Linked DNA regions of Homo sapiens. The protein of the gene in region 6 purifies or fractionates together with the protein of the main gene of each other region. This does not show direct contact. Each region holds a gene or a part of one and is shown on either strand. Other genes may lie near its edges. The genes, in order: GOSR1, TMEM106B, STX2, SCFD1, ACBD3, SLC35A1 and CILK1.

Evidence for each region.
Region 1: the proteins of SLC35A1 (region 6) and GOSR1 purify together in Homo sapiens (affinity purification with mass spectrometry; one large-scale study listed by BioGRID and IntAct). This does not show direct contact.
Region 2: the proteins of SLC35A1 (region 6) and TMEM106B purify together in Homo sapiens (affinity purification with mass spectrometry; one large-scale study listed by BioGRID and IntAct). This does not show direct contact.
Region 3: the proteins of SLC35A1 (region 6) and STX2 purify together in Homo sapiens (affinity purification with mass spectrometry; one large-scale study listed by BioGRID and IntAct). This does not show direct contact.
Region 4: the proteins of SLC35A1 (region 6) and SCFD1 purify together in Homo sapiens (affinity purification with mass spectrometry; one large-scale study listed by BioGRID and IntAct). This does not show direct contact.
Region 5: the proteins of SLC35A1 (region 6) and ACBD3 purify together in Homo sapiens (affinity purification with mass spectrometry; 2 studies listed by BioGRID and IntAct, with this or other methods). This does not show direct contact.
Region 7: the proteins of SLC35A1 (region 6) and CILK1 purify together in Homo sapiens (affinity purification with mass spectrometry; 2 studies listed by BioGRID and IntAct, with this or other methods). This does not show direct contact.

The regions. Positions count from the first base shown.
Region 1 is NC_000017.11:30,483,908-30,487,407, reverse strand, and holds part of GOSR1 (Golgi SNAP receptor complex member 1), read right to left. Parts: intron 3,195-3,500; coding exon 3,107-3,194; intron 2,746-3,106; coding exon 2,638-2,745; intron 1-2,637. UniProt on the Homo sapiens protein: Involved in transport from the ER to the Golgi apparatus as well as in intra-Golgi transport. It belongs to a super-family of proteins called t-SNAREs or soluble NSF (N-ethylmaleimide-sensitive factor) attachment protein receptor.
Region 2 is NC_000007.14:12,238,794-12,242,293, forward strand, and holds part of TMEM106B (transmembrane protein 106B), read left to right. Parts: 3' UTR 1-3,500. UniProt on the Homo sapiens protein: In neurons, involved in the transport of late endosomes/lysosomes. May be involved in dendrite morphogenesis and maintenance by regulating lysosomal trafficking.
Region 3 is NC_000012.12:130,794,251-130,797,750, forward strand, and holds part of STX2 (syntaxin-2), read right to left. Parts: intron 1,871-3,500; coding exon 1,790-1,870; 3' UTR 1,745-1,789; intron 1-1,744.
Region 4 is NC_000014.9:30,632,319-30,635,818, reverse strand, and holds part of SCFD1 (sec1 family domain-containing protein 1), read right to left. Parts: intron 1,873-3,500; coding exon 1,782-1,872; intron 1-1,781. UniProt on the Homo sapiens protein: Plays a role in SNARE-pin assembly and Golgi-to-ER retrograde transport via its interaction with COG4. Involved in vesicular transport between the endoplasmic reticulum and the Golgi.
Region 5 is NC_000001.11:226,146,461-226,148,741, forward strand, and holds part of ACBD3 (Golgi resident protein GCP60), read right to left. Parts: intron 1,609-2,281; exon of another isoform or gene 1,543-1,608; intron 362-1,542; coding exon 150-361; 3' UTR 1-149. UniProt on the Homo sapiens protein: Involved in the maintenance of Golgi structure by interacting with giantin, affecting protein transport between the endoplasmic reticulum and Golgi. Involved in hormone-induced steroid biosynthesis in testicular Leydig cells.
Region 6 is NC_000006.12:87,479,474-87,482,973, forward strand, and holds part of SLC35A1 (CMP-sialic acid transporter), read left to right. Parts: intron 1-3,500. UniProt on the Homo sapiens protein: Transports CMP-sialic acid from the cytosol into the Golgi apparatus, functioning as an antiporter that exchanges CMP-sialic acid for CMP. Binds both CMP-sialic acid and free CMP, but has higher affinity for free CMP.
Region 7 is NC_000006.12:53,020,325-53,023,824, forward strand, and holds part of CILK1 (serine/threonine-protein kinase ICK), read right to left. Parts: intron 1-3,500.

The DNA.
Region 1 (3,500 bases), on a different chromosome or scaffold from region 6:
ATCAAGTCTTATTTAGAAAGTCCTTTCTGCTCCAAAGTTTACAAATTTCACCTCTGCTTTATGGTTTCTTTTTCTATCCTTCTTGGATCCATTTGGAATTTGTTCTGGATGTGAGGATTGAGATAGAATTGTTTTTTTAAAATCTCTGAATAATTAAGCAATGGTTATAGTTCCATTTATTTTATAATTTCTCTTTGCCCCACTGATTTTAAACAACATCTTTATCAGAAACTAAAAATTTCCAAACATAATTGGGTCTACATATAAACTCTGTTTAATTGTTTTTATTTATTTATTTTTTTTCTCTAGTATCAAACTGTCTTAACTATTCCAGCTTTTTAACAGGTTTTAAGATCTGGTAGAACTAGGAACCCTCTACCACTTATCTTCATTTTCAGGTTGTTTTTCTTGGTTGTTCTTGTATGTCTATGATTCCAAATGAACTTTGGTGTCATTATGTCATTTGTTTTTAATTAAACAAACAACGATACAACCCTGCTGTTTCCACTGGGATGTCATGCAATTTAGACGAAAGTCTTCCTATCCAAAAACAGAATGATTCTTTCCTTTACTTAAATCTTGTTCTATGTCCCTCAGTAGAATTCTGCACATACAAGTCCTACACATTTCTTATTTAATTCATATATAAATGCTTTATAGTTTCTTCCATTGTATTTTCTAACAGGTTATCATTTATTTCCTATCATAATAGGAAAACTATTTGCTTTTATGTATTCATTTTGTGATCTACCATCTTACTGAATTTAATTGTTTCTAACTTTTTATCAGGTAATTTTCTTGCGTGTACTAGACATATAATTTTATCCTGCTACCTCACAGAAATTTTGCCTCTTCCTTTCCAATATTTACATCTTTTTTTTTTTTTTTGAAACAGTCACTCTGTTGCCCAGGCTGGAGTGCAGTGGTGCAATCTCGGCTCACTGCAACCTCCACCTCCCAGGTTCAATGTTCAAGCTATTCTCCTGCCTCAGCCTCCCAAGTAGCTGGGATAACAGGCACCCACCACCACGCCCCGCTAATTTTTGTATTTTTAGTAGAGAAGGGGTTTCACCCTGCTGGCCAGGCTGGTCTCCAACTCCTGACCTCAAATGATCCGCCCACCTCAGACCTCCAAAGTGCTTGGATAAGAGGTGTGAGCCACCATGCCCAGCATACATTTCATTTCTTTTTACTGTCTAATTGCACCATCAAGAACTTAAAAAACAACGTTATACATTTGTAGCGATCATGGGTATCCTTGTCTTGTTTCATACAATGGGAATGTTTTTATTGCTTTCTCTTTAAACACAATGCTAGCTTTTAACCCGATAATACATTTTTGTATTAAAGTATCTTTCTATTCCTACTTTTTTTTTTTTTTTTTTTTTAGATGGAGTCTCAGTCTTGTAGCCTAGGCTGGAGTGCAGTGGTGCAATCTCAGCTCACTGCAACCTCCGCCTCCTGGGTTCAAGCTTCTCCTGCCTCAGCCTCACAAGTAGCTGGGATTACAGGCGCCCACCACTATGCCCAGCTTATTTTTATACTTTTAGTAGAGACAGGGTTTCGCCATGTTGGCCAGGCTGGTCTCCAACTCCTGACCTCAGGTGATCCACCTGCCTTGGCCTCCCAAAGTGCTGGGATTACAGGCACGAGCCACTGCGCCCGGCCATCTATTCCTACTTTTAAAAACAGTTTTTAAAATTAGAAATAGTTGCTGACTTTTCTCAATATTAAAAATATTTGTGGCTGGGTACAGCGGCTCATGCCTATAATTCTAGCACTTTGGAAGGCTGAGGGGGTGGATTGCCCATACACAGGAGTTAAGAGAACAGCCTGGGCAACATAGCAAAAACCTGTGAACACAGGAGTTAAGAGACCAGCCTGGGCAATATAGCAAAACCTCGTGAACACAGGAGTTAGAGACCAGCCTGGGAAACATGGCAAGGACCTGTCTCTGCAAAAGCTTTTAAAAAATTAGCCAGGCGTGGTGGCATGTGCTTGTGGTCCCAGATGCTCAGGACGCTGAGGTAGGAGGCTTGTTTGAGCTTGGGAGGTTGAGGCTGCAGTGAGCTGTGACTGTACTACTGCACTCCAGCCTGAGTGACAGAGAAACCCTATCTCAAAAAAAAAAAAAAAATTGCCTTCCTATTTGTACTACCATATTTTTAACATATCCTCCATTTAAATCTTTAAAAGTTTATTTAGTTTTATTGGTGCATACACATTTACTGTTTTCTTAAACAATATACTAAGTATAGTAAATAATTCCCCCTCCATATTATCTTCAAAGCTAGCTGAAAGTACACGCTTACCCACCACGTTATTGTCTATACATGACCATTGGCTATTTCACTGTTACAGCTAGCTAGCTAGGTCTCCCATAGTGGAAGTATATGTACCCAGTGATGAATATTACTCAACTTCGCCAAGAAATAGCAAGAGCTATTAGATATTTTCAGAATTTTATAATGGTGACCCCAAAAAAAAGTAAAACAAGTCCCTTTAGCATGGCATTTATTTTCTCAGATTTTTCTCTTTGTCCTTTTAAATATATGTGCACATATCCAATGCAGGGATTAAAAAAAAAAAAACCCAAACTCCTGTGATAATGAAAACATCTCGAGCCCAATATATTACCTGCAATATGTCTCTATGCCGCTGTAATGTATGCATCAGGGCTGCATTCAAGGAGGGGACACCTGCACTGTTGGTATATTCTGCCATTTTATCATTTACCCCTGTAAGCTAGAAATAAAGAAAAAAAAAACAATCAAAATATTTTACTAAGCACTATAAACAGCTAAAAGCAAATTATTTGCCTATATGCCCTTTTGGTTGACAGCAAAACAAAACAAAACAAAACAAAACAAAAAACAAACAAGAGAGCAAGTAAGAATTCAGCATTCCCCCACATAATCCATAAAGACCAAAATAACATCATATCACCTGAGAATGGCTGTCATCAAAATTCAAGTGGTGTGGGGAGGTACACATATTGAATGGAATGGATAATTTCAATAAACATGTCTGTCTCAATATAATCCAGGATCCTACGTAACAAGTATACAGTTATTTGCAAAATAGCCATTTAACAGAAAGCACTTACCCTTGCCAAAAGTTGTTCAATCTCAATCGCCATTGTCTCAAACATTCTGTCTTGGCTTGATCCATTTAAAAGGGGTGTTGTATCAGAACTAAAAAGAAGTTCAGTTAAAGAGGATCCATTACTCAAATCAGTCCTTTAAAACATACTTAAAATAATAAGGTGATTAATAGGAGCCATAAAATGAATTATGGATTATGTTATATAGGGTCTGTGAGAAACGATCTTTTACATTTTTACCCCAAAGGAATTATGGTTCCTTCAACCTCAACATTACATTCTCTCTTCTTTCCTTGACTCTTACCAAGAGGAAATAAGATTGAGGTTTAAATGATCCACAGATTGGATAACTAGCTAACGAATACTCAGGAACTGGCTTTAAATCCAATATATACAG
Region 2 (3,500 bases), on a different chromosome or scaffold from region 6:
AAAATATTCAGTGAACCGTGTTGTAAACAGATGTCATATTATCCAGACTGTTCCATTTATTGAACACAGGCAGAGTAGGTAAAAGTTTTAAGGGTCCTAGGATTTTCAGGATGGCAAATGAGCATTGGCTTCAACTTAAAGTCACCAGCTACATTCACCACTAAAGAGAGTCAGCCTGTCCTTTAAAGCTTTAAAGGCAAGCATTGACTTCTCTTTAGCTATGAAAGTTTTAGATGGCACCTTTTTGTAAAAGAAGGTTGTTTTATCTACATTGAAAATATATTGTTCATTGTAACCACTTTCATCAATGATCTTAGCTAGATATTCTGGGTAACTTACTGCAGGTTCTCCATCAGCACTTACTGCTTCACCTTGCACTTTTATATTATGGAAACAACTTATCTCCTTAAACATCATTAACCAACCTCTTGGTAGCTTCCAACTTTTCTTCAATAGCTTCCTCATCTCTCTCAGCCTTCATAGAATTGAAGCGTGTTAGGGCTTTGTTCAGGATTAGGCTTTCACTTAAGGCAATGTTGTGGCTGGTTTGATCTATTGAAACCACTAAAACATTCCCATATCGGCAATAAGGCTGTTTGATTTTCTTATCATTCATGTTTTCTGGAACACTTTTCAATTACTTACAGTAAGGAAATAGCACTTTTAATTTCCTTCAAGAACTTTTCCTTTGCCTTCACAACTTGTGCAAGAGACCTAGCTTTCAGCCTATCTTGACTTTCCAAGATTGTCCTTGGTGAGAAATGCTTGATTACTAGGTGTAATTATTTCTAGCTTTTGATTGAAAGTGAGAGATATGTGACTCTTCCTTTTACTTGAACAGTTAGAGGCTATTGTAGGATTATTAATTGGCCTAATTTCAATGTTATTTTGTCTCAAGGAGAGAGGGATGTGGGAACAGCTGGTTAGGAGAGCAGTCCGAACACACACTTTTTTTTATTACTTTCACTGCCTTACATGGGTATGGTTCATGCTGCCTCCAAATACTTACAAAAACATCAAAGATCACTGATTACAGATCATTAAAATAGGTTTAATAATAATGGAAACATTTGAAATATTGCAAAAATTACCAAAATGCGACAGAGACATGAAATGAGAACATGCTGTTGAAAAAAATGGCACTCATAGACTTGTTGGACACAGGATTGAAAGAAACCAATTCATCAAAACCACAATATCTGCAAAACGCAATAAGGTGATGCACAATAAAAGGAAGTATATCTGCACTTCCTTCTTTTTTACTGAAAAAGCCCAAGTTCTTACTCTGGTGTTGAGAACCTTTCATTAGCTGGCTACAATCTCAGTTCACAATCATTTCTTATTGCCCTTCAACAATGTCCTGACCAAATCGAGTTCTTTCTCATTGGGAACAGTTCATTCCTTTATCCCTTCGCTCATTCTGTTCCTTTTTTCTTAGAAAAATTATTTGCCCATGTTTTTTATCCCCCAATTCTATCTTTTTCAATGCCCACTTCGTGTCCAACCCCTCTCTACTTTCCCTCTAAACTTACTCAAACACTTGGTGAACTTTTTCTGAATGTTTTTTCTGAATGTTTACTTTTAAAGGAGTTGCCCAGTCACAAAGTTTGAGCCAAGTTTTTTTGTTTTAAACTTGTTTTAAACTTTTGTTTTCATCAACTTTTTTCAAACAATTTTTGTCAGCTTAGAGGTTGTGTTTTAATTACTATTTTTAAAATCTTGTATGAGGTAGTATGATTTGAAATTAGATGGAATGTGCCCAAAATTATCTCTGTAGAATAATATGGAAAAACGAAAATGAAAAGATGTATTACCTGAATGTGCTCCTCCTAGCCAGTTTCTCAAGGGAGAAGAATCATTAATAAGTTTGTGAGGCTTTTTTTTTTTTTCTGGTAGATTTCTGTTTCCTTGATCAGTGGTTTTTCAGAATTTTTTAAAGCTTGTGAAATACTTATTTGTAAATAGCATCTTATGAGGAACCTTGATATGTGACAAAACAGATGCTTTGATTTGAGAGCAGAAGACCTGCAGCCCCTGACTGCTCACCTTTCCAGGGACCCCTGAACATTGGCCTAGAGGGTAGTGTACAGTCACTTCTTCAGTGATAACTTACTGAGTGTGATTCAACAAAACTGCTTTGGTTTATGGGTGAAACATAATTTATAACTAGGCAAATGTCAGCTTAAATTTATATTTTCTAAATAGCACTGAAAATGACAATAGACAAATGTAATTTCTGATTTTTAAGAAATGATTTTCCATTTTAACATACATTTTAAATGTTTTGTCTTCAAAGGGAATCCTTAAAAATGATATATTGGAAACCACTGATTTCTTATTTTCATTTCATGAATTTCAGATTCATGAATGGAATATATTGATAATAGCATTTTTTAAGTTGCCCCAAAAAGATGAAATACAAATAATTTTAATCCCAAATCTATTTCAGACACCTAACTTTTTTTTTATTTTTTATACTTTAAGTTCTAGGATACATGTGCAGAACGTGCAGGTTTGTTACATAGGTATACACGTGCCATGTTGGTTTGCTGCACCCATCAACCCGTCATCTACATTAGATATTTCTACTAATGCTATCCCTCCCCTAGCCCCCTACCCCACAAAAGGCCCCAGTGTGTGATGTTCCCCTCCCTGTGTCCATCTGTTCTCATTGTTCAACTCCCACTTATGAGTGGCAACATGTGCTGTTTGGTTTTCTGTTCCTGTGTGTGTTTGCTGAGAATGATGGTTTCCAGCTTCATCCATATCCCTGAAAAGGACATGAACTCATCCTTTTTTATGGCTGCATAGTATTCCATGGTGTATATATGCCACATTTTCTTTATCCAGTCTATCATTGATGGACATTTGGGTTGGTTCCAAGTCTTTACTATTGTGAACAGTGCTGCAATAAACATATGTGTGTATGTGTCTTTACAGTAAAATGATTTATAATCTTTTGGGTATACACCCAGTAATGGGATTGCTGGGTCAAATGGTATTTCTGGTTCTAGATCCTTGAGGAATCACCACACTGTCTTCCACAATGGTTGCAATTTACACTCCCACCAACAGTGTGTAAAAGCTTCCTATTTCTCTACATTCTCTCCAGCATCTGTTGTTTCCTGACTTAATGATTGCCATTCTAACTGGCGTGAGATGGTTTCTCACTGTGGTTTTGATTTGCATTTCTGTAATGACCCGTGATGATGAGCTTTTTTTCATGTTTGTTGGCTGCATAAATGTCTTCTTTTGAGAAGTGTAAGGTACTTAATTCTTAAATTAAAAAAAAATACCCGGCCGGGCACGGTGGCTCACGCCTGTAATCCCAGCACTTTGGGAGGCCGAGGCGGGTGGATCATGAGGTCAAGAGATCGAGACCATCCTGGCTAACAAGGTGAAACCCCGTCTCTACTAAAAATACAAAAAATTAGCCGGGCGCGGTGGCGGGCGCCTGTAGTCCCAGCTACTCGGGAGGCTGAGGCAGGAGAATGGCGTGA
Region 3 (3,500 bases), on a different chromosome or scaffold from region 6:
CTAAGAAGAAAAAAATAGAACATCTTGCCTAATAAACATCCTACACAAACATCCTGCCTAATAAAAATAGACGGTAAGAGAGTTCTGACTGCCAAATAATGGAATGTTAACACACGCAGCATCCCAGAGCTCCTTACAGAGTAATTTCAGGTGTAATTTTGTGGCTTTTGCATAAATGTCAGAAGACTAACTGGAAAACTTCTCATCTGGTAACTGCATGGTGAGCGTAACAGATGCTCACATTAAGATATCAATCTCTTGTTTTGAGATGGTCTCGCTCTGTCACCCAGGCTGGAGTGCCGTGGTGCGATCTAGACTCACTCTAGCCTCGACCTCCCCAGGCTCAGGTGATCCTCCTGCCTCGGCCTCTGGCGTAGCTGGGACTATAGGCACGTGTGCCACCATGCCCAATTAGTTTTTGGATTTTTTTTTTTCTGTAGAGACAGGGTGTTGCCATGTTGAAGGAATAAATCTTAAAGATTACAAAGCAATAGTGAGACTTAACCATGCTCGTGATTCCTTTCTGCTGTATGTTAACTTTTTAAAAAGCCTTGGGTGACTATCAAGTCTGCAGTCACTTCCATAACCCAAGAATAAATTCATTGGGGATGACTTGCCACACTCTAGACACCTGGGAACAGTTCACAACTGTCTAATACAAGAATTGTGCCAAACATTTACAGAGAAATCACTGCTGTGTCCACCTGTAACACACCGACAGCATTGCCACTTCAGGGCCAGTGCAAGGATGGCTCCCAATGCAGAAGAAAACCAGGGGGAAACCACAAAGCCTGCTGAAGTTTAGGAAAGGTGACACTCACACCTTGATTCTTTAAATAAACTGATACCTTTTATATTCAGAATTCTTTAAGAATTAACAGGCATGCTAACTAAATATAATACGTAATTTTCCTTTTAATATTAAAGGAAATATTTTTAAATAAAATAGATGCTGCCTATAGAAAGGTCGAAGGATGTTCCTTTCAGTCAATGTTTTTCTCAGCGTTCATCCATGCCCTCGATTCCATAGTAAAATGATGCGTTAGTGTATTTTATAAAGTACCTTTCAGTGTTGCAATTACTCTAAAAGCTAAAACTCAGGAGACAAAACATTACAACTGAGAATTAATCTTCACTGAATTTCTATGACATTTAATGAAGGATCCACTACATGTAAAGAGCTAATGGTCTTAGATCAAAAACAAAAGATTCAGGCTGAGTACAGTGGCTCATGTCTATGTATAATCCCAGCACTTTGGGAGGCTGAGGGCCAGGAATTCGAGACCAGCCTGGGCAATACAGAGAGTTCTCGTCTCTACTAAAAATAATTTTTTTAAAAATTAGCCGAGTGTGCTGGTGCACGTCTGTAGTCCCAGCTACTCGGGAGGCTGAGGTAGGAGGACAGTTTTAGCCCAGGAGGTCGAGGCTGCAGTGAGCCATGATCACGCCACTGCATTCCAGCCTGGGTGACACAGCTAGACCCTGTCTCAAAAACACTTTTAAAAACGGGATAAGAAGGTGACCTTGGTTTAAAAATGAGTTACCGCCCAGCCTGTGCTTGTTCTCAGTAAACACAGTGGCTGGGCACTCGAATCAGCACACAGGCAGATGTATCACTAGATGGCATTATCTGTACTGCGTGGCTGGCAAGCTTTTATTAGTTTTATGTCTATTACAATTAAGCAAATACTATTATTGGTTAATTGCAAAAGTTAATAAGTAAATTAGTTGATGAGTTACTTACTCCCACCCTGGCAGAGAGGCATGCACACTGACGTTATCCACACCATCATTTGCCAACTGACAAGCCAATAATTAGAGCGATTATGGCAACCAGAACCACTGACACAGCAATAATTATCCACTTTTTCTGTCAAAGAAAAGCAAGCTGATTATATCATGCATGGTTAATTTCATATTGCCACATTAAAAGACATCCTTCATTTAAAATAAAACGACCTGGCCAGGTGTGGTGGCTCACGCCTGTAATCTCAGCACTTTGGGAGTCCGAGGCGGATGGATCACCTGAGGTCAGGAGTTTGAGACCAGCCTGGCCAACATGGCGAAACCCTGTCTCTACTAAAAATACAAAAACCAGCCGGGCGTGGGTCTGCAATCCCAGCTACTCAGGAGGCTGTGGCAGGAGAATCACTTGAACCCAGGAGGCAGAGGTTGCAGAGAGCCAGGATCGTGTCACTGCACTCCAGCCTGGGCAACAGAGCAAGACTCCATCTCAAAAAAATAAAATAAAATAAAGCAAAACAACCCATCAGAACTCACTTTAGAAGCTAAGTTACAGGACACTGCTTAATACTGTTGGGCGACTTCTTGAGAGAGTGACTTAATAAGGTCAGACTACTTGGCGATAAGCTGCTATGTAACTGTTATTTCAGGTTTCATCCATGGGGACAGCACGACCAAGTCATTTTGCCACATTTCTGATGACTGAGACATGCAGTTAGTTTTCCGCATGTACAGAGGTGCGGGCCTGCTAGCTCAGTGACGGAGAGCCCCACTGCCTCGTCATGAAGCCCCGACACACTCAGTACTTGGCCTTTCGCTCCTTCTTTTATGTTCTTGGCAGTTACTTCTTCACTGCTCCTGACATAGCACACAGAAAAAAAAAACCCTTCTACAAACGTTGCCTGGCCTCCCTCTGAGGGCCACATGGCTCCGCGGGAATAAATGCAGGACACTAGGAGTGGGGACGACCCACACCTGAGCCAGGGGCAGCAGCAAAGCATTTGAGCGGCAAGGGGACAGGGAGACAAGCCAGGAGGGTTCCATTAGCAGGCATCTCATCAAAAAGACAGTGTCATTTCTGAAACAGGCATCACGTCTCTGACGAGTTTATACGCCAGCTACCGCACAGACCCCAAGCACCTCACAGAGCCAGGCTTGCTCATCCACAGAGGAGAATGAAAACGTATCACACCCACCACCTTCCCCCTTTGTAAAACCAACGAACTTTCACTATCGTTTTCACCAGACTGACGTGTTCAGGTCATGGAGAAAAGGAACAGGACTGCCTGTTTTTAATGAAAGCTGACTTAGGCCTGGAACTAAGTTAAGCACTTTATACAGGTATCTCTTCACCTCAGTTTACATTAGGGGCCAATTTTTTCAAAGCAATAAATGAAATAACATGAGAAACCATGTCTGGCATTTCAGAGATGACGAGCATACTTAGACATACCCAGGAAAAGCGGAGGGTGTGCCCTGGCGGCTGAGCCTGCAGCCCGGGGGTGTGAGTGAGGGTGTGCCCTGGCGGCTGAGCCTGCAGCCCGGGGGTGCGTCTCAGGGCCATCGCCTGGAGGTGCATCCACACACACCGTCTCACTCCATTTTTTCCTAACACGGTGAAAATCAGCATCTCTGTGTATTAGCACAAGGAGGTGACAATGTGAAAAACCCATAATCTCTCCAGTGTCAGGGGCACTATCATAAAATGCCTAAGTTAGGAGAGTAAGTTTTAAATTTTTGCCCCGTAACAAAAAAAT
Region 4 (3,500 bases), on a different chromosome or scaffold from region 6:
AAGGTAAACATAGAGTTATCATTTGACCATGCAATTTTATTCCTATGTGTTTACGGCCACAAGAGAATTGAAAACATGTCCACAGAGAAACCTGCACATGAATATTTATGGCAACATTATTAATAGCCAAAAGGTAGAAACAATCCAAATGTCCATCAAGTGGTAAAAGGATGAATAAAATTTCGTACATCCATACAATGGAATATATTCAGCCACGAAAAGGAATAAGGTACCAATTCATGCTACAATATGGATGAACCTTGGAAACATTATGCTAAGAGAAATCAGCCATATACAAAAGACCACATATTATAGGATTTCATTCATATGTAATGGTCAGAGTAGGCAAATATACAGAAACAGAAGGTAGCTTAGGGATGGAAGAGGATGGGGGAGGGTTGAGGATGTGATAAATGGTACCAGGTTTCTTTTTGAGGTAATGACAATGTTCTAAAATTGACTGTGGTGATGGTTGCAAAACTCTGTGACTATATTAAAAACCAATGAACCATACACTTGTGCTCCTTAAATGTGTGAATTGTATGGTATGTAAATTATAATTTCAATAAAGGTGTTATTTAAATAATGAAAGAAGAAGAGATTGCAAGTGGTACCTCTTTCATGAATAGCATACTTGAGTTTACGCAGGGTAAAAGAGAAAGCTGGGCATCATAAAGCTACACAGGACACAAAATTTGCAAACGTCACTAACAATTTAAATAGCAATTTGATTCAACAGTCAATAACAAAGATGTTGTGACTTGTGGAAGACACTGTTACTTACCTATCCAATATCTACTTTTCTCCTTTTCCTTGCTAAAAGAATCTTGCTAGATTTTCTTTGGGGTGACTCATCTAAATATTGACTTTTGCAGCCACCCTTGTAACTGATTCTACCTAGTGAGAAATAAATAAAGGTCTTCTGGGAGTTTCTGGAAAGGCTTAAATTCCTGATCAAAATCAACAGTCAGGGCTGGCACAGTCCATGTCCCTCTTCTTGTTGATGTGAACATAGATTTGATGCCTACAGGCGCAGCGACAAGCAAGACAAGGAAAACCAACAAACTAAAGACGAATGATCAGCGACAGAAGGAGCCTGGGTCTTTGATTACCTTATAGTACTTCTGCACCAGTGTGGACTTCCTAATCTCACCCTTATTTTAGAAAAGGAAAACCCTATATAAGTTAGAAAGGCAATATACCTAGGCTTTCTGTTTGTTAAAGCCAGACTCAGACTTTACCAGTACAGTGGTTGCCCTTATTTGCAGGGGTTATTTTCCAAGACTCCAGTGGATGCCTGAAACCAGGTAGTACTGAACCGTATATGTTTTTTCCTATACATACATATTTATGATAAAACTTAATTTATAATTTATAAATTGGGCACGGTAAATGATTAGCAACAATAGCTAGAAATAAAATAGAGCAATTATAAAATATATTCTGTAATGAAATATATTACAGAAAATATATTCTGTAATGAAAGTTATATGAATGTGGTCTCTCAAAATACTGTAATATATTCAGTACCTGGTTAACTGTGGATAACTGAAACTGTGGAAAGTGAAACTGTGGACATGAGAGGACTACTGTATAATACTTCTTCAGCCAAAAGTTTTAAGTCTTTCAGGCTATTTGGAATTCAAAGATAGTCTCAAAAATCAGAGTGAGAAAGTAGGCATAGGAATTTCTGATTTTTCACCCTGGACATCTAGGAATTTTTCTTGAAAAAAAAATCCATTTCCAAATTCAGGAGTCCAGAAAATAAGAACCCATATTACCTGGCACATTCTGTCAATATTTTCTTCAGTTGGCATTACAAAGTATACTGCAGGAACATCTGGAATAGGATCTCGATCAGAGTGTAAAAGCCTAGAAGACATAAGGAACTAAAACTTATTTTTTTATTCACTTATTTAAAACAATATTCCTCAAAATGGGAGTTCACTAGCTCAAGGACAGTAACCAGTGCTCTAAAAGCTCTTGTTGCAATTAATCAGTGAGTTAACCTATCTTTCTCCCATGTCAGTGTTGTTATTATTTATTAGCATTAGTAAGACCCTAATTTCTTGTTAGTCTTCATTTGTTCTATTCTGCTCACACTTTTAGCACTGCTTATGGTCAGACATTCTTTTCTACCAACACTCTCCTTGAATGAGAACTAAAACATATTCAGAATCAATCTTATTCCCACTTTTCATAGAAATGTGGTGGTCAGAGGGGAAGGGTGAATGTGAGGAAAGTGTGGCTCTCTGAGGGGAAAATCAGAAAGCTAGGGGACGCAATGAAAAAAATTTTAGAAGCAATTCTTTAGAAGCTATAAAAAAATTTAACCAAACATGAAATCAAATATATTTTTTAAATGAAAGGTATATAAATGTTTCCTTAAAAATTAAAGACAATCTATTTTTGTCTATTTATTGTTTCATAAGAGAATGTAAGCATCTTATAGATTAAGTCATTTTACAGTTTTCTCCTTTTACAATTTAGGAACAATTTCCATACAAATATCCCAACATCAAACCATGCTTATATGAGGAATATTCACCTCTCTCTAGTCATCCTTCTATAATCAAGGAGAGAGAGGAAAGAGGCACATGCTGCCAGTGAGTCTGTGTTTAATAACTGTTGCCACTGATATCAAGAATGATAATGTGATGGCTGCCATAGGTTGTGGTCTTTTTCACACTGCTTGTCCAACTGTCTAATGGGCTACAACCACCATTTCATACTGTGGAAACTTGTAATTACTGTTTCCTACAAATTAGCCTAAACCAGCTTGCAGGGTATAAAGTAACTGATACAGTATTCTCCAGCAAATAGAGGAGAATGGTTGGAGGCAAAGTACACAAGAGTTCACCATGGTAGCTGTGTAATATTTCCATGCTCTGGTGGCAAGTAGCAAGTTAGGCAGAGATTACGAGACTCTCAAACTGGTAGACTATCCTATTACCCCTGAATGAAGTACTGAGTAAGGCCTCACTTCTGTTAGTTACTGTTACTGAGCCATTACAGTTCAGTAGATAAACAGCACAGAATTAGTGGTCAAGCAATGTGGCCATGGCTCTGTTATTAACTGGTTGTACAAATGTGAGACAATCACTTAAGCCTTCTAAACTTCAGTCCTTCCATTAGTAAATAAAGGAGTTAAACACTTAGTACAGAGACAATGGCACTCAATGTTTATTAATAAACCACAATTTCCAAGGATAGCATGAAGTTAAACTTTACTTCAGTCCATAAAAATTAACACATTATCAAAGCAAACCTGCTTATTTCAGTCTGACATAAAAATGAAAGGAAAACTCATCAAATACCGTATTTCATGAAACCCAAGGTGGTAACAATTTTAAAACATAATTTTTAAAATATATTTTATATACTACTGAGAAATAAAAATGCTGCCAGTTATGACATATCATCAGTGATAAGATAGATCCTAATTTCAGAAATGTAAAAAAGGACATTTGGAATTGACAAACTATAACAGTCTATTAACA
Region 5 (2,281 bases), on a different chromosome or scaffold from region 6:
TTTTGATTCCCAGCAAGAGTTCACAAACCATCAGACCAATATCAATAAGGTAAACTGTGACTCTAATGCTCCACAAAAGTAAAAAGAAATTTCCAAATTAAATGTCATCTTCTGCCCAACCCTAGACTCCAGACTTTGTAACAACATTTTTATCTAGTATAATAGACTCTGTAGTAGACTGATTTTGACCGCCACAAAGAGTAGGAGTTGTCAAACTTGAGGAGATAGACTCCTCTCCCTGGATATTGATGGCTGCCAGCATACACCTCCTCATGACAGTCCCGTCGGTACACAGGCACAATCTCATCCAGCAAAGGCTTGTTGGCATTCTTTTTGGCTTTCTCTTCACAACCGATGTTTTCTGTAAGAACAGAGACAAGTCAATGAACAGATTCAGGAAAACCACACTTGCATCAGGCAATTAAAATCTATCCTTTCTTTTTTTTCTGGAGACAGAGTCTTGCTCTGTCACCCAGGATGGAGTGCAGCGGCGTGATCTCAGCTCATTGCAACCTCCACCTCCTGGGTGCAAGCGATTCTCCTGCCTCAGCTTCCCAAGTAGCTGGGATTACAGGCGTGCACCACTACATCCAGGTAATTTTTGTATTTTTAGTAGACATGGACTTTCACCATGTTGGCCAGGATTGTCTCAATCTCCTGACCTTGTGACCCACCTGCCTCGGCCTCCCAAAGTGCTGGGATTACAGGCGTGAGCCACCGTGCCCAGCCTATCCTTTCTTTGAGAAACTGCTCTTGTTGGGAATTCTGTTGAACCATTTAACAAGTTATGTGCATGTGAGCATTTATTAGTTCGTTCATTCATTCATTCATTCACTCATTCATTCAAATACCTAAGTATGTGCTATACACCAAACCCTGTTCTGAGCCCTGGGAGCCCAGTGATGAACATCTAGTGGTAGCAGTGGTCAGCATCCTATCTCTTTCTGTGCTTACTACCATTCCTATTTCAAGGTCCCATTTTCCCCTTTCCATAGCCATTCAATTCCTAATTCATCCTCAGGAATTTCACTCATCTGAGTAACATGAAAATGTTGCTCTCATCATCCTCCTTCTGACCAATATGAGTCCTCCCCATTTTAGAAAGATGGAAGATGATTTGTGAGGACTATTGCTTTCTGTATATCTTAAATATAAGCAGTAAAATGAAAAAATCATAGTAGAGAGATAGGCATTCAGAGATACTCTGAAAATTCAATTATTTTCACTAGGCCAATTTAACCCAGAGATGATCTAAGTGGCAAAAAATGGGCTCTGAAAGGTTTGCCCCGGTTAAGAGTTTTTTGAACTGTAATGCTATGAGGTTAGGAAAAAAAATGCCTCTAGAAACCTACAGGAATGAGAAAATTATGAACCAGCTTCGAAGTCACAGTTTAACATATTTAATACAAACCAGCTCAAAGAGGTCAAGGGAGTATTCAGCACAGAAGACAAGACTTTCGGGTTTATGGTTGTTGTTTTTGTTTGTTTGTTTGTTTAAGAGACTGGGACTACAGGCATGGATTTTCAGGTTTATAACATGGCAGAGTGAATTCTGGCAACACACTGAGTGATGCTTGTCAATGGCCACTATCAGGAATTTAAAACAAGGTAAGTTTGAGAAATTCTCACCGTCTATAGCAGATTAAGGAGATATGATGACTGACTATAATGTGGCATCCTGGAAAGGATCTTGGAACATTAGGTAAAAACTAAAAACATCTGAATAAATATGGACTTTAGTTAATTAATGAATCAATGTATCAATATTGTTTCATTAGCTGTGATGAGTGCACCACAGTACAATGTAAGATGCTAACAACAGAGGGAACTTGGTGCAGGGTATATGGGTACTCTTTGTGCTATCTTTGTAACTTTTCTGTAAATCTAAAACTATTCTAAAATTAAAAGTTTATTTTAAAAAAGCAGATGGCACTCTTATAAAGGTAGGTCAAAACCAGATTTACTTAACCACAGAAATACCTATAATTAAGCATGTTTCACATGCAAATGAGAAATACAGAACCATCCAAAATGTACACTATTGTTGACATCCAAGAAATAGACTGGTCCATTGATTCAAGACTCAAATTTTGTTTTAAATCTATAAAACTAAAGATTACTGGGATAGATGAAAAGGCATCTTTTATGAATTTAAGCCAAGGTTTAGGACCTGTAAACAATGAAGAAAATGGAGAATTAAAACAGGAGGATGTGTTACCATCCATGCTTCTTCAGAGAAAGCAAACTCCTCTGTCTACCTTTCAAGACCTAAGGAAGAAAA
Region 6 (3,500 bases):
GCCATCCTGTAAAGGGGTCATTTACCCCTGAGCTGCTGGCTAACTCATTGGACAGAGCAGTCAGACCTTGCAATGCCTTTGTTATACTTCCATTAGGGGCAGTGTTGTTTGGGATGAAGGCACAACATTCAGTTTTAATCATGATGCAAACTCCTCCTCTTTCTGCTAATATCATGTCTAAGGCTATCCTATTTTCCCAAGCCATCTGGCAGTTAGTCCCTAATTGCTCAGCTATTCCTTTAACAGCATCTCTAGTGTAGTTCATAAATTGCTGTTGGTTATAATAGATGTAGTTTATCCAATCTATGTTTTTATTAATTGTGACCCACCAAAATATTGACTCAAATCCTGCAGCTATTTGATTTCGGGCTTTAAATTGATCTGGTATTCCCCGTGGGACTCCAATTGCATCTAAATAGACATGAGAGTTGAATGACCTATAAGGAGCTTCTCTCACTTTATGATGTCTTATTTTTCCTTCCTCTGGTTGATGAAATGCCAGAGTAAAAGGGATAGCCAATTGAACTAGAGCATAACTACTGCTCTAATTATTTGGCAGAGTGTCCAGTAAAGGTCCTCCATAATACCACCATACATCCGCTCAGGGATGAATAAGGGCAGATTGACGGGTCACCTCTTGGAAGTGCCTAACTTCACTGCATCCTGTTAAGTCTCCAAGAAATGCCAAATTTTTCCCCGTGTCGTTAGAGACACGAGGTAAAATTGGTTTTGGAAGATGGAGGCTGGATGGCCCTTGGGGGCTGACCTGCAGGGTGTTGGACTTCAGGAAATAGCAGAGAAAGAGCTTAGCACAATTTGTTATTCCAGGCAGTAGAATCTTGAAAAAGCTACCATGCACTCCATGTCCACTTGATTTGAGGACCATCCCAGTGGAAAGGTAACAACCTGGGCCTCTAGCCTACCGTGCACACAAGTGTAACAGTTACTTTTGTTTAAAGTGTGAATGGAATATTTAATACATTTTAACCAGGCATTTACATCTTTATACCCTGTCAATAGCTATGGTTTGCCTTAGGTCTCCTATTTCTACTACTGAGACCTTGCTTTTGTCATTTGGCATGAGGCGAGGCATAGTTTTATTTCGTAGGTTTGTGAAAGGGGCAGTTGTAGGAGGTAGAGCAGGGAGAACAAAGCGCATCTTAAAGAAGCCTATAGGGTCCTTTCCAGTGACTTCTGCTCCTAAACCATAGAAACGCTCTAAAGTGGGGTTAGAGTTGCTAGTGGTAGGAACAGTAATGGATATAGGCACTGTGTTAGGAAAGGAAGGAAAAGATAGATAGACTAAGCTTTTCTTAGCTTTAATTTGGTAAGGCTTGATCCAGGAACAATGGTCCATGATTCTGATGGTAATGGTGCTTGCTTGACTCGGGTGTGATGTGTCCATCCCCCTTCTGTGGTACAAACCATAGTCTTGGTGGTTAGCAGCACAAGGTAGGGTCCTTCTCAGGCTGGCTTGAGTTTTCCTTCTTTCTACCCTTTGATGAGGGTGTGATCCCCAGGCTAGTGCCCGTTTACCAGAAATTCTAGGGGTGGTACCTGTGCTAAAAGACTTGTAGTTTTGAGGGAAAGGAAAGTGGAAGATAAACCAAGTATATAATTTATGAGAAACTGATCTTTTGTTTTAAATTTGGGGACACCAGGCTGGGCGCGGTGGCTCATGCCTGTAATCCCAGCACTTTGGGAGGCCGAGGCGGGTGGATCACCTGAGGTCAGGAGTTTCAAGACCAGCCTGGCCAACATGGAGAAACCTTGTCTCTACTAAAAAATACAAAATTAGCCAGGCTTGGTGGCACATGCCTGTAATCCCAGCTACTTGGGAGGCTGAGGCAGGAGAATCGCTTGAACCTGGGAGGCGGAGGTTGTGGTGAGCCGAGATCGCGCCATTGCACTCTAGCCTGGGCAACAAGAGCGAAACTCTGACTCAAAAAAAAAAAAAAAAATTGGGGGACACCAGCAGTGGACTTTATAGTCCTTAGTGCCTTCTTCCTGAGAAACTTCCTTTAGAAACTTCCTGAGAAACCTATTTTTATTAGTTTTTAGACCAAAGAAAGCCAAACACCATTTTATATTTGACAGTGCTTCCTGTATGATTATACCAGATAAGCTAAATTTCACCTTTATATTAGTGTATTATTAATATTAAACTCAATTTTAATAAAACCCTGTAGACATATTTATCCGATTTTAATGTCTGACCATAAGGTAAGATTTCCATAGACTCTTTTTAACCTTTTATAAAATTTGTTAAAGAGCAGTTTAGTGTTTTTTAGTGTTTTAAGAAAAACCCATTGTGCTTTTATTTTAATGTCCAGTTCACAGAAAAACTGGATGATACCCCTTTAACTTTAGCCAATATGGTTACACACAGAATTTCCTTTACAATTAACATTTTAAAACTTGCTTAAACGCTCAAAACAAAATTTTTTTTAACCTTTTAATGTAGGTAAAAATCCACATTCTATGCCTCCTTATTATCCTTTTACCAAAAGTATATTTTACTTTCATTATACACCTTGCACATAAACTGTTTCTTCAATAGTTTTACATTCAGGAGGCCTAATTACTTTTAAATTATACAACATTTCTTGCATAAGTTCCCTTTTATAGCATTTTTCATGACTTTCGCAATCTTCGACAGGCCTCAATTTTCTGACTTCCTGTAAACATCGCTTTCTTTAAATAACCAGTTAATTTATTTTAGGATAATAATTTACCATATAACATTCTTTTTATATAAATTCTCCCCCCCCTCCTTTTTTTTCCCCCAAGATGATAACCATTCTTTTCCAAAGCAAACTTCCTTCAGGTCTGTGGACTAGACTGCCTAAGGCCACAAGATTAGAAGTTAGGATAATACATATTACACTGCTAACTTTTGGCAAACTTTACCTTTGTGGAAAACCTTGTAAGTTTGGTATTTCAATTATCCTTTGCTATTAATAAGACTTTCTTTAGTTTAAATTAACTTAGAATTGGTATAGACCACTCCTTCCTGATTCTGTAAGTACTTTAAGGCTTAGCTGAGTGCAAACAGCTTACCAACTATTAGGCAATTTTCCTAACTCTACTTCTATAAGAGTTTCCCTATCACTTACTGAATACCCGTTGTGGCTTTTTCCCTCAGTCACACGGGAGGAACCATCTATCGTCCTGTCCTGAAGGGAGTTCCTTCTAGGTCTGGTCGGACCTTTATATGGTAATTAATTAAGATTTAGATCCCCTGTGAGGAAACCTGCTGGGTTAAGGGAATTATCAGTGGTTAATGTTAAATCATCTTTTTCTAACAGAATAGCCCCATACTTTAAGATTTTTGAGTTAGTAAGTTACCTTTTTGTCTTAGGATACTTCTGAACTGGGTGAGGTGTGCTCACAATGAGGTTTCCTCTAAAAGTTATTTTTCTACTTTCTTCTGTTAGCAAAGCAGTTGCCGGTACAGATTGAATGCATTTGGGTCATCTGCGGGTTACTGGGTTAAGGAT
Region 7 (3,500 bases), about 34 Mb from region 6:
CCTGAGAGTATCACCAACCTAGACATCATTTAATGTGGCTCCAAATCTCAATGGGACACCAATACTGGAAATACAACTCAGCTGCTGCTGATGCTATTATTTGTTACACATTATCATTGCTATCATTACAGGCTGAGTATTCCCTACTCTGAAAATTCAAAATCTGAGATGCTCCAAAACCTGAAACTTTTTGAGCACCAACCTGACACATAAAGAAATTGCTTACTGCAGCATTTTGGATTTCGGATTTTTGGGTTAGGGATGTTCAACTGGTAAAATATAATGTAAATATTCCAAAATCTGAAAAAATCCAAATTCAGAAACACTGCTGGACCCAAGCATTTCAAGTAAGAGATACTCAATCTGTATCAATGTTGTGAAAGCTGGATTCTAACTAGCACATTATGGGAGAAATTAATAGCCATCACTGAAGATCTACACGATTCCTTGACAACCTGTATGTTGACAACGCTCAAGTCTACATTTCTAATGTGCCTTCTCTACCCTTCTGAAGACATAAATCTCTATTTGGACAGCAACTGGATGTCACTATCATCCCTATGTTAACTTATCCAAAACCACTTTTGTCCTCTCCCAAATCATCTCCCCTTCCTAACCTTTGGATAAGATTTCTAGGTACCTTGCAGTTATGTTGGATCCATCCTTACCCAGTTATGAGATTGTGTCGTATTTTCTATCAAAACATCTCATATCAGCTAGGCGCGGTGGCTCACGCCTGTAATCCCAACACTTTGGGAGGCCGAGGCGGGCGGATCACTTGAAGGTCAGGAGTTCGAGACCAGCCTGGCCAATATGGTGAAACACCATCTCTACTAAAAATATTTTAAAAATTAGCCGGGCGTGGTGGCACATGCCTGTAATTCCAGCTACTCGGGAGGCTGAGGTGGGAGAATTGCTTGAACCTGCGAGGTGGAGGTTGCAGTGAGCTGAGATCACACCACTGCACTCCAGCCCAGGCAACAAAGCAAGACTTCGTTTTGGAGCGGCGCGGGGGGGTTGGGGGGGTAAATCTCATATCTGTCTCTTTCTACTTTCTCACTGCCTATGCCTGCATTGCCACTTTCTTGCAGACCTTCCTTGCTCCAGCTTCTCTCCTATAATCCTGACCACTTAAACACTATCTTTCCCTTGTCACTCTCTCATTCACCCACAAAAACCATCCATGACTCCTTTTTATATTAAACAGGGCTGAACTCCTTTCACTCTACCTAAAGAGAGAAACTTATTTTCCAACACTTATCAATACATGTAAAGTGTGCTCCAATCAGGTGCAACTCCTCATTCTTTGTAAGTTCACTGTACAGTCATGCACTGCATAACGAAGTTTCAATTAATGATGGACTGCATATATGATGGTGGTCTTATTATAATGAAGCTGAAAAATCCTTATCTAGTATTCACTATACTATACTTTTAATCATTATTTTAGAATTGTACTCCTTCTACTTACTAAAAAAAAAAAAAAAGTTAACTGTAAAACAGCCTGAGGCAGGTCCTTCAGGAGGTACCTAGAAGGCTTTGTTATCATGGGAGATGACAGCTCCCTGCGTATTATTGCACCTCAAAACCTTCCAGTGGGACAAGATGTGGAGGTGGAAGGCAATGATACTCATGATCCTAACCCTGTGTAGGCCTAGGCTAATGTGTGTATTTGTGTCTTAGTTTTTAGCAAAAAAGTTAAAAAAGTAATAATAATAATTTAAGAACAGTAAAAGCTTATAGAATAGGGATATAAAGAAAATATTTTTGTATAGCCATATGTGTTAAGCCAAATGTTATTATAAAAGAGTCAAAAAGTTAAAAAAAGTATAAGTTTATGAAATAAAAAGTTTCAGCAAGCTAAGATTAATTATTGAAGAAAGAAATTTTAAAAATTTAGTGTATCCTTGGTGTACAGTGTTTATAAAGTGTCCTAGACCTTCATACTCACTCACTGATTCACCCAGAGCCATTTCCTGCAAGCTCCATTCACAGTAAGTGCCCTATACAGGTGTACCATTTTTAAAAAAATTTTTTATACTATATTTTTACTGTACCTTTTCTATGTTTAGATACACAAATACTTACCATTGTGTTACAATTGCCTATAGTATTCAGTACAGTAACATGCTGTAGAGGCTTACAGTCTAGGAACAACAGGCTATACCATATAGTCCAGCTATGTAATAGGCTATACCATCTAGGTGTGTCTAAGTAAGTGTACTCTATGATGTTTGCACAACAACAAAATTGTCTAACAACACATTTCTCAGAACATATCCAGTCATCAAGTGATATGTAACTGTACTTATTTCCATTAATAATGTGCCCTTTACTCCTTTTTGTCTACATCAATCCCAACTTTTGCCATCCTCCAACACCTGTTTTGAGTTTCGCTTCTTCCATTATGCCATTCTAACATGGTAGCCTTCATTCATTCATTCATTCATTCTACCAACACATTTTCACTGAGCATCTGCTCCATGCCAGGCAACAGATTAGGTTCTAAGGATTCAGAAACAATGCAATGGACATGACTCTTGCCCTCATGGACATAATAGGCCCTCCCCTCTAACTCCAGTTGAGCTCTATCAACTTCAGGTATGTTAACCATTTTTTTTTTTTTTGAGACGGAGTCTTGCTCTGTTGCCCAGGCTAGAGTGCAGTGGCACAATCTCAGCTCACTGCCAGCTCTGCCTCCTGGGTTCACGCCATTCTCCTGCCTCAGCCTCCTGAGTAGCTAGGACTACAGGCGCCTGCCACCACACCCTGCTAATTTTTTGTATTTTTAGTAGAGGCGGGGTTTCACCATATTAGCCAGGGTGGTCTCGATCCCCTGACCTCATGATCCACCCACCTCAGCCTCCCAAAGTGCTGGGATTACAGGTGTAAGCCACCGCACCTGGCTAACCATTTTTTATGAATTAGACAGAAGCACTTTAAGGGCAGAGGCCACATTTATATTTCTTATGAATGCCTGGCACAGTGGCAGGAGCACTGTGGTCTCATAATATACTCTTGCTGATTGAACAAAGGACTTTCGTCTGTAGGGAACATTAAACAGCTTAATGTTAACACATCTACCTGAGCCAAGCACCAGGGTCAACTAGAGAGCAAACCAGAGCTGTGAGGAGGATGGGAGGGAGGAAACCCATGAGACAGCACTGAGAACTGAGAGAGAACAATGACCCAGTAGTGCAGGGGACAATGAGGGCTCAGAGCTGGTTGTCCTTGTGACAGAGGGAGTTGTATTAGTTGAATGAATGAATGAAGGCAGGAACTCTAGTAGGACTAAATCTATTAGTCAAGGTTGTTTTCCAAAGACTGTCACTGCCCTAGAGCAAAGGGAGGGTGATTGTGATGTGGTTATATGTGAAAATACACTAATTGCCATTATCATGGAAAGGAACAATATTTTAGTAATAGGACAATCCTCTCTGTTCATCATTCTAAAGACAACAGTACTTAATACTGGGTCAAGTTCCAAATGGATAGTATTA